Linked DNA regions of Homo sapiens: region 2 is linked to region 1. Evidence: fine-mapped expression QTL. Tissue or cell type: whole blood. Region 1 holds a variant in brackets; the other region holds the start of a gene. All regions are shown on one strand. Distances are from middle to middle.

Region 1 (5,655 bases):
TCCCACACTCATCCAGTCCTGCCCATTCCACATCAGAAACAACTCTTGCCCATCCCTTCCTTTCCATCCCCACGCCCGCTGTCCTGGCTCCTCCTTTTTCTGAGTTTCCTGACTTCCAGCCTCACACTCTAGTCCATCCCCCAGTGTTGATGACTACAGGGATCACCTCTGAGCTCCCCAGACCAGGCCTCCCCAGACCTGGTCCTGACTGTATAGTCTCTATTTCCTCCTCCCCAGCAGCCCCTTCAGGGTTAGGACTACTGAACTCCTATTCGTCTTTCAAAACCCCATTAATATTCCCTCCTCCAAGAAGATATTCCCTCCTGGATCTCTGATGCCTCAGCCTGGGCTCCTACAGGTCCCAGTCCTGACTACCTGGGGGCCTGGAGGTGTCTACATGGAGCTTTGCTTCCCCTAGCTTGGCAGCTCCTTGAAGGCTGGGCCTAAGAAACTCCTACTCATCCCTCAGGGCCCCAGCTCCTTTGCCCTTCCTACAGGAAGCCTTCCCTGCCCCCTAGGCTGGGCCTAGGTGGAGCGCTCACCGCAGGTTGGTTTTCTGCACGGAGAAGCAGTACTCGTTGATGCCAGTGGTGGGCATGCGGCTGCGGAGCACGTCCTGAGCTGTGGGGACGTAGCCCTCCTCGGTGATGCGCTCCAGGTGGGACAGGTAGCTGCAGAGCAAGGAGTCCTGAGGCCCAGCCTTGCAGCCAGCCTCCCTTTGCTTCCCAGGCCCTACGAAAGGCCCAGCAAGGACCCTGCTGGGGGAGGAGAGCTCCCTGGGTGGAGGTGGGGTCCCTGGAGTTGGCAGATGGCCCAGGAGCGTCCCCCACCTGAGGCAATGGAGCCCCAAGGAAAAGCAGCTTCACACGCAGAGCAGGGTGACCCGAGGGATGGCGTGACATGAGGAATGGCCTCATCGAGGAGTGGTGTCCCCCGGGAGAGCTGCTATGGCAGGGGTGGCGCTACCCCAAGAATGCTGGTAGCCTGGGAACAGTCTTCCCAGACATCAAGCCACCTTGGACATCCACCATCACACCTAGTACAGGATCCCACTAGGAATAGGGTCACCCCCAGAACAGGGTCTCCCCTGGAACAGAGTCCCCCCTAAAACAGGGTCACTTTAGGAACAGGGTCCCCCCAGGAACAGGGTCACTCCAGGAACAGGGTCCCCCCAGAATAGGGTCCCCTCAGAAACAGGGTCACTCCCAGAAAAGGGTCCCTTCTAAAACAGGGGCACTCTAGGAACAGGTTCCCGCCAGGAATAGGGTCACTCCGGGAACAGGGTTCTCTAGGAATAGGGTTCCCCCAGGAACAAGGTCCCCCCAGGAACAGGGTCCCTCCAAGAACAGGGTCACTCTAGGAATACAGTCCCCCCAGGAACAGGATCACCCCTAGGAACAGGGTCACTCCAGGAAAAGGATCAACGCCAGAACAGGATCCCCCAGGAAATAGGGTCTCCCTGGGAACAGAGTCACCCCCGGGAACAGGGTCCCCCCAGAAACAGGGTCACCCCTGAAACAGGGTCCTCACGGGAACAGGGACTCCAAGGCCCAGGGTCACTCCAGGAACAGGGTTCTCCAGGAATAGGGTTCCCCCCAGGATCAGGGTTCCCCCCAAGAACAGGGTCACTCTAGGAATACGGTTCCCCCAGGAACAGGGTCACCCCTGAAACAGGGTCCTCGCAGGAACAGGGAACCCCAGGCACAGGGTCACTCTAGGAACAGGATACCCCCTAGAACAGGGTCTCCCCAAGGAACTGGATTCCCTCAGGAACAGAGTCACTCCTAGAACAGAGTCCCCCTATGAATAGGGTCATTCCAAGAACAAGATCACCGCCAGAACAGAGTCCCAAGGAACAGGGTCCACCCAGGAACAAGGTCATTCCATGAAGGGAGTTCCCCCAGGAAAAGGGTCACCCCCAGAACAGGGTCCCCCGGGAATTAGGGTCCCCCTGGAAGGACCTCATCCTGGAGCAGGACCACCTCACAGCCCATCTGCGCCCACAATATCTCCTGCTGCAGGAAGCCAGCCAGCCTGGCCCCTGCCCTCAGCCCCTCCCCACGCGCCCATCCCCCGCAGACCCCAGACTCACTACACGGCTGAATCGAGCAGGTGGAATTCCCGCCGACGCTCATAGCAGGCCCGGATGCCGGCATCCCTCCACAGCCACTGCATGGCCGCAGCGTAGCGCTTCTCAAACGTGGTCACTTTATAGGGGTCCTGGCTCATGACCAGGCTAGCGTGGTGCTGGGGAGGGAGGACGGGGGCAGTTAGGGTAGCCTTTCTGAGTGGGGCTGCCCTCCGCAGGCATCTCTGCAAGCCCCCACGTCCCTCCCTGAAACACGCTCTCTTCCCACTGCTCTCCTTCTTCCCCAGAGCTCCCGACCCCCCCGCACACTTCTGATTTGTCCTCCGTCTGTTCTTGCATGGATCCCCAGAGGGAAAAGCACAGACCACCACATGAGGGGCTGCAGAGGGCACATGTGCTCGGGCGAGCCCAGGCTCAGGGGGAGCATGGCACCCAGCCCCGCTCTTTACACTAGCTGGCTCCCAGGAAGCACGGCACTCACAGTCCCCCCTTCCACAGATGAAGCGACTAAGACACAGAGCACTGAAGCAATCTGCCCCTCAGAAGTCCCCCAGAGGCGCGTGAACCCTGAGCTGCCCCCCAGACTCTGGGTTTCCCCTTCTTTTCCCCAAACAGCCCTAGCTCCCCCCAGGCACTCGCGTTGCTCAGACCTTTGTGATGGACTCTGAGTGTTGTGTGTGCATTTCTCTGTGTTTGTTCATGTACAAGCGTGCTCGTGTGTGTGTGTGTATAGATGTACACATGTACATGGGTGTGTCTGGGTGTGTGATTTGTTTGCATATTTGTGTGTGGGGCACGCGCATGTATCCTTGGCTGCATTTGTGGGTGCGTGCATAGGTGTGCTTGTGTGTGCATTTGTATGTGTGCACACATGTGCGTGCATGTGCATGGGGGGATTGCATGCAGGCATGTGTGTATCCTTGTGTGTTTGTGTATGTGCATGTGTGTGTGTGCATGTGGGAATTTGCATGCATGCTTGTGTGTGTTTGTGTATGTGCATGTGTGTGTGTGCATGTGGGAATTTGCATGCATTCTTGTGTGTGTTTGTGAGTGTGTACACGTGCATGGGCGTGTTTGAGTGTGTACATTTGTGTGTGCACTTATTTGTGTGCATCTGTGTGGGGGCATCTGCATGGATCCTTGTGTGCATTTGTGTGTGTGCACACGTGTGCACGTGTGTGCATTCATTTGTGTATGTGTGTGGGTGTGTGCATGTGGGCATGCGTGTGTATCTTTGTGAGCATGTACGTGTGTGTCCTTGTGTGCATGTCTGTGCGTGTGCATACATGTGCGTGTGTGCATTTATGCGTGTATACTTGTGTGTGCACTTGTATGTATGCACATATGTCTGGAGGACATGGCCTTGCCCCAGGGTCTGGGGACCCTTCCCTGCCTGCCCTGCCCTGCCCTGCCCTGC[C/T]CTGAAGTCTGGGGAACTTGGCCCTGCTCCGGGGTCTGGGGAACCCTGCCCTGGGCCCCTGCCTGCCCTGGGCCCCTGCCTGCCCTGGCGGCTCACCTTGCTCTCGGGCCTGCTGAATGGAATCTGCAGCCGCTCCATGGCCTCGATCATGGCCCGCATGGACACGAAGATGTTCTGGTAGACCAGGGGCCGGAAGCCCTTGCGCTCCTCCTCCGAGTAGCCGGCGCCGTGGATGATCCGCATCTGCTTGATGAAGGTGCTCTTCCCGCTCTCGCCTGGGCCTGGGGATGGAGCAGCAGAACCGCTCAGCCCTCCACGGGACTCCCACCCCCGACACCCCCAACCCCACGTCAGACACCCCCAACTCCACGCCAGGCCTCCTGGGTTCAAACCCCGGTGCAGCCGGGACCTCACTCAGTGACCCTAGGCTAGCGGCTTTGCCGCTCTGTGCCTTGGTTTCCCCATCTGTAAAACATGAACCTCAGGCTGGGCACGGTGGCTCATGCCTGTAGTCCCAGCACTTTGGGAGGCTGAGGCAGGCGGATCACCTGAGGTCAGGAGTTAGAGACCAACCTGGTAAACATGGCGAAACCCCATCTCTATTAAAAATACAAAATTAGCCGGGTGTGGTGGCTCACGCCTGTAATCCCAGCTACGCAGGAGGCTGAGGCAGGAGAATCGCTTGAACCTGGGAGGCAGAGATTGCAGTGAGCTGAGATCACACCATTGTACTCCAGCCTGAGCGACAGGGCGAGATTCTGTCTCAAAAAAAAACAAAACAAACAAACAAAAAAAACAAAACATGGACCTCAACAGACCATGCCTGCTGCATCAAACTGAGGGCCAAATGAATTGATTATAAAATGCTCACGGTAAGGGTCGCAAACTCCGGCTGCTTGAGGGCCAGATCCAGTTATCTTTGTGTGGCCAGAAAGTTTTTGTTTGTTTTTGTTTTCTTTTTCTCTTCTTTTTTTTTTTTTTTTTGAGATGGAGTCTTGCTCTGTCACCCAGGCTGGAGTGCAGTGGCGCGACCTCGGCTCACTGCAAGCTCCGTCTCCCGGGTTCACACCATTCTCCTGCCTCAGCCTCTCTGAGTAGCTGGGACTACAGGCACCCGCCACCACGCCCGGCTAATTTTTTTGTATTTTTAGTAGAGACGGGGTTTCACCGTGGTCTTGACCTCGTGATCCACCCGCCTCGGCCTCCCAAAGTGCTGGGATTACAAGCGTGAGCCACCGCGCCTGGCCAGTTTTTGTGTTTTTAATACTTTTTATGGTTATGGTTCTTATGGGTTTTTTTCTTTTTTCTTTTTTTCTTTTTTTTTAGACAGATTCTCTGTTGCCCAGGCTGGAGTGCAATGGCGCAATCTCAGCTCACTGCAACCTCTGGCTCCCAGGTTCAAGTGATTCTCCTCCCTCAGCCTCCCAAGTAGCTGGGGTAACAGGCGCGTGCCACCACGCCTAGTTAATTTTTGTATTTTTAGTACAGCTGTGGTTTCACCATGTTAGCCAGGCTGGTCTCAAATTCCTGGGCTCAAGTGATCCGTCTGCCTCGGCCTCCCAAAGTGCTGGGATTACAGGCGTGAGCCACCGTGCCTGGCCTATTTTTATTATTTATCATAACAATACTAATATGTATTATTATTTGCTACAATAATTTCAGGTAGAGAAACTTTTACGAAAGAAATAACATAGGATAAATAGGGCAAGGAGTAATTAGGTGACTACGATAGCCACGCAGTCAAGGAAGGCCTCTCAGTGGAAGTGATTTGTGAGCAGTCAAGGAAGGCCTCTCAGTGAAAGTGATTTGTGAAGGCCGGAAGGTGGCTGTCAAAATCTTAGAGGGCACACCAGGTGACAGTAACAGCTTGTGCAAAGGCCCTGGGGCAGGGCCGCACCTGGCATATTGGAGGAACAGTGAGGAGGCCCTTGTGGCTGGAGCAGAGTGAGGAGGGGGAGAGAGGAAGGAGGGGAGGGTGGGTTGTGCTGGGCCTTGTGGGTTGCAGGGAAGTCTTGGGCTTTGACCCTGAGGGACTTGGGAGCCATGGAGGGCTGTGGGCAGAGGAGGGACTGGCCCTGACTCAGGTGCTCACAGGCGCCCTCTGGTGGCTGCTGCAGGGAGGACAGGCTGTGGGGGGTGGTCTGGGGGA
Region 2 (4,000 bases), 29 kb before region 1:
GTGCCTCTGCCAGCCCCAGAGAGTGGGTCCCCAAAAGATGCAGAGGCCAGAGATGGGGCATGGGCCCTGCCATTTCTAAAGGGGAAGTGAACAAGAAGAGGCGGCATTAACTGTCATTGTCACCCCCACTTCCCGCAACGCCCAGAGGTTGTCCACACACACACACACACACACACACACACACACACACTCCACCCTCACAGGGCACTGGCCCGTGGCCCTCTCTAGCAAAGACACACCCGGCTGCCCCTAGATCCACAGCCCCCCTGAGCCACGGCCCCCACGCATGCACGCACCAGGGAATAAGAGGCCGCAACATCACGTACCATGATCGAACTTCAATGTTGCCAGGGCATGCATCCCACAGTCCACCCCTTGCAGCCTGGGAGCCCTACTGAGGCCCAGAGAGGGGCCGGGACTTCCCCAGAATCACACAGAAGCGGGGTTGTGGGGAACCCACTCGCCCCCACACCAGGGTGCTCTCTGCTCCTACGGGGAGGTGGGGTGGTTGCCTCCTTGTCCAGGGTGACCATGGGAAGCCCATTTGGCGTCAGAAGCCCCGAGAGGCCACCGGGAAGACCATGGGGGCCTGTCCCGTTCCCTGCTCCCCATACAGGCGAGGCTGCGTGCACACAGCTTCCTGTACCCCAGGAGGGCCTGCCTGGCACGCACCCGGTGGCTGCACCATCCACACGCAAGACTGCAACTTCAGATGCTCCGCACGCTGGAGATGCTGGACAGGGGCTCCCGCATCCGAAAGCTGAGCGAGCGGGAGCCGCGAAAGCTGTCCCTTGGCCTCAGAGAGCTGTCGGTGGTGGAAGCTCCGGAGTGAGCCTCGACGGCCCGGGCCAGGCAGTCCCCGGGCCCTCGCATGCCCAGCCGGAGACACCCGCAGCAGAGGAAGCTGAGCACGGCTCTGCACACCTCCCTGCTGCGGAAGGAGTAGATGATGGGGTTGACCGCCGAGTTGAGGACGGCCAGGGCCAGGATCCAGTCCATGCCCCGCAGGTACTCCTGGGCCCAGAGGTTGGAGCCAAAGACGTCGGCCAGCAGCAGCCCGAAGAGTGGGCCCCAGCACACCAGGAAGGCCAGCAGGATCATCAGCACCGTCTTCAGCAGGCGGCGGGCCTTGCGGCGGGCCGCTGGGCGTGGGGCCTTCTGCCCGCTGGCCTGCACCAGGCGGAAGATGGCCCCATAGAGGCCCATGATGGTGGCCAGGACGCCGGCGAAGATCACCAGGCAGAAGAGGATGTAGCGCTTGGAGTAGAGGGGCAGAAGGCTGGAGCAGCGGTCAAAGGCGCACAGGCAGTTCCAGCCCAGCAAAGGCAGCATCCCCAGCAGCGCGGCCAGCAGCCAGCAGAGGCCGATGAAGCCGTAGACGCGGCTGGTCTTGGTGGCCCCGCTCTCGGCCACCGGCCGCACCATGGTGGCAAAGCGCTCCCCTGCAGTGAAGAGCAGGCTGAAGGTGGAGGCGGCCAGGGCGGTGAAGAGCAGGCCCTCCCGTAGGAACCACTGGGCGGGCGCCAGACGGAAGGTGCGGGCCCCCGACAGCAGCACGTTGGCCAGGTAGGCCGCGCCCGTGAGCAGGTCACTCAGCGTGATGTTCACCAGGCAATAGTAGACCCAGCGTCGCGACCGCATGTGGCTGGTGATGGCCGCCAGCACCAGCAAGTTCTCCAGCACCACCAGGCAGCTGGCGGCCACCGACAGCCCCCGCAGGGCCCCCAGGCCGCCATCCTCCGGCCCCCCGCGCCCGGCCAGCCGGCCCGAGTGGTTGTAGTGCAGAACAATGAGCCGGCTGTGCCCGCCGGCCGCCAGCTGTTGGCAGGACTCGGGGGCCACCGGGGTCCCCGTGGCGTTCATGGCCTCCCCCGGGGGCTGACTGAGGCCCGACGCAGGGTGGAGCCACCCGCCTTGCTGGTCTTGGTTTCCTGTTATTTGAAATTTCCTGTTATGTTCAAGGTGCCCTCCAGGGTGGAGGTAAGGCCGAGGACAGGGAGGGGCACCCCAACGGTCGGCCCCCACCCGGGCTCCTGGAGCCAACGCGCTGGGGCTGCCCTGGCTGTGAGGACCCCCACCCCTGCCCTGGCTGCCTTCTTCCTGTCCTCGAAAGCCGGAGACCCGCAGGGAGCCCCGGAGCCGTCAGTCACGGAGGGGAAATGAGTCCCCACTCGGGATGGGCCACCCCTTTCCAGCCGGACGACTCCTCCCCACCAGCCCTGATCACCCCCGAAGCACCCGTCGGCTCCACTGAGGTCTCCCCACATGCTCCACCGGCGCTCAGCACACAGCAGGTGCCTAATAAATGTCAAGTGCCTGCATGCCCTTGAGCACTGACTCATCCGACTTGATCCCCGAAACAGGGCCTGATGCGTTACAGAAGAGGAAACTGAGGCCCAGAGAGCCCGGTGCGTTGCAGAAGGGGAAACTGAGGCCCAGAGAGCCCGATGCGTTGCAGAAGGGGAAACTGAGGCCCAGAGAGCCCGATGCGTTGCAGAAGGGGAAACTGAGGCCCAGAGAGCCCGAGGCGTTGCAGAAGGGGAAACTGAGGCCCAGAGAGCCCGAGGCGTTGCAGAAGGGGAAACTGAGGCCCAGAGAGCCCGATGCGTTGCAGAAGGGGAAACTGAGGCCCAGAGAGCCCGATGCGTTGCAGAAGGGGAAACTGAGGCCCAGAGAGCCCGATGCGTTGCAGAAGGGGAAACTGAGGCCCAGAGAGCCCGAGGCGTTGCAGAAGGGGAAACTGAGGCCCAGAGAGCCCGAGGCGTTGCAGAAGGGGAAACTGAGGCCCAGAGAGCCCGATGCGTTGCAGAAGGGGAAACTGAGGCCCAGAGAGCCCGAGGCGTTGCAGAAGGGGAAACTGAGGCCCAGAGAGCCCGATGCGTTGCAGAAGGGGAAACTGAGGCCCAGAGAGCCCGATGCGTTGCAGAAGGGGAAACTGAGGCCCAGAGAGCCCGATGCGTTGCAGAAGGGGAAACTGAGGCCCAGAGAGCCTGATGCGTTACAGAAGGGAAAACTGAGGCCCACAAAGGCGGCCTGAGGCCAACTTTCTGCCCATGGGAGGACACACAGGTCCAGGGAGAGAGACCCCCAGGGACAAGCTGGTAGGGTCTCGGGGCCAGGCGCCCATTTTGGGATTCATGGTTGCCTCTCCTGCCCCTGAGCTCACCCTGCTGGGAGCAGAGCTGCTGGCCCCCTGGGGCAGCCCCCCACTGGGATTGAGGTGCATAGGAAAAGTAGGGACTTGCTCACCCCATCCCCATGGCCCTGCTGACAACGGCTCACGGTGACTCAGCCTGAGGTGAGGTGGCTGTGGGTCTAAGTGGGAGACACACCCTGCTCTGGCGTCTGAGGAGGGAGGCAGGCTCTGCCCTGGCGTCTGAGGGGGAAGCTTGGACCTGCCTGGGGTCTGAGGGGGGAGGGTTGGCCTTGCCCTAGGTTCTGAGAGGGGAGGCATGACCTTACCCTGGGGTCTGAGCGGAGAGGCTCAGCCTTGTCCTGGGGTCTGAGGAGGGATGCGAGGCCCTGTGCTGTGGTCTGAGAGGGGAGACACACCCTGCCCTGGGTCTGAGGAGGGAGGTATGCCCTGCCCTGAGGTTTGAGCGGGGAGGCTTGAACCTGCCTGGGGTCTAGGGGTGAGGGTTGGCCTTGCCTTGGGGTCTGAGTGGGGAGGCATGGCCCTGTCCTGAGTCTGAGGGGGGAGGCGAGGCCCTGCCTTGGGGTCTGAGGGGAGAGGTGAGGCCCTGTCCTGGGGTCCAAGGGAGGAGGCGAGGCCCTACCCTGAGGTCTGAGTGGGGATGCTCAGCCTTGCCCTGGGGTCTGAGGAGGGAGGCTCAGCCTTGCCCTGGGGTCTGGGGCATGTAGGGGCTTGGACATCATCTGTCACGGATGGAGTGTGAGGTCTCTGCTCTCCAGCTCCCCCAGTGTCTGTGACCCCCCACTCGTCCCCATCCAGAAGGCCTTGGGGTGTGGGGTGATTTGGGAAATAATGCAGGCCCCAGAA

What was found. PIP is the estimated chance that this variant, and not a neighbour inherited with it, causes the effect.
Region 2: S1PR4 starts here. The variant in region 1 is fine-mapped to the expression of S1PR4 in whole blood (INTERVAL, PIP above 0.99).

What each region holds. Positions count from the first base shown.
Region 1 is chr19:3,146,723-3,152,377 of GRCh38, reverse strand. It overlaps GNA15 (G protein subunit alpha 15), which reads right to left. Exons shown (of 7, transcript NM_002068.4): 2 at 3,603-3,787; 3 at 2,093-2,247; 4 at 543-671. It overlaps GNA15-DT (GNA15 divergent transcript), which reads left to right. Exons shown (of 4, transcript NR_110670.1): 2 at 2,588-3,762. Among named protein-coding and RNA genes, the nearest start is that of GNA15-DT, 5.6 kb to the left of the region's middle. The variant C/T (reference allele first, on the strand shown) is at 3,507.
Region 2 is chr19:3,176,656-3,180,655 of GRCh38, reverse strand. It overlaps S1PR4 (sphingosine-1-phosphate receptor 4), which reads right to left and starts at 1,887. Exons shown (of 1, transcript NM_003775.4): 1 at 324-1,887. The coding sequence starts at 1,863. The coding sequence ends at 709. RefSeq lists enhancers at 300-529, 570-749, 790-1,439, 3,023-3,905 and a silencer at 1,670-2,219.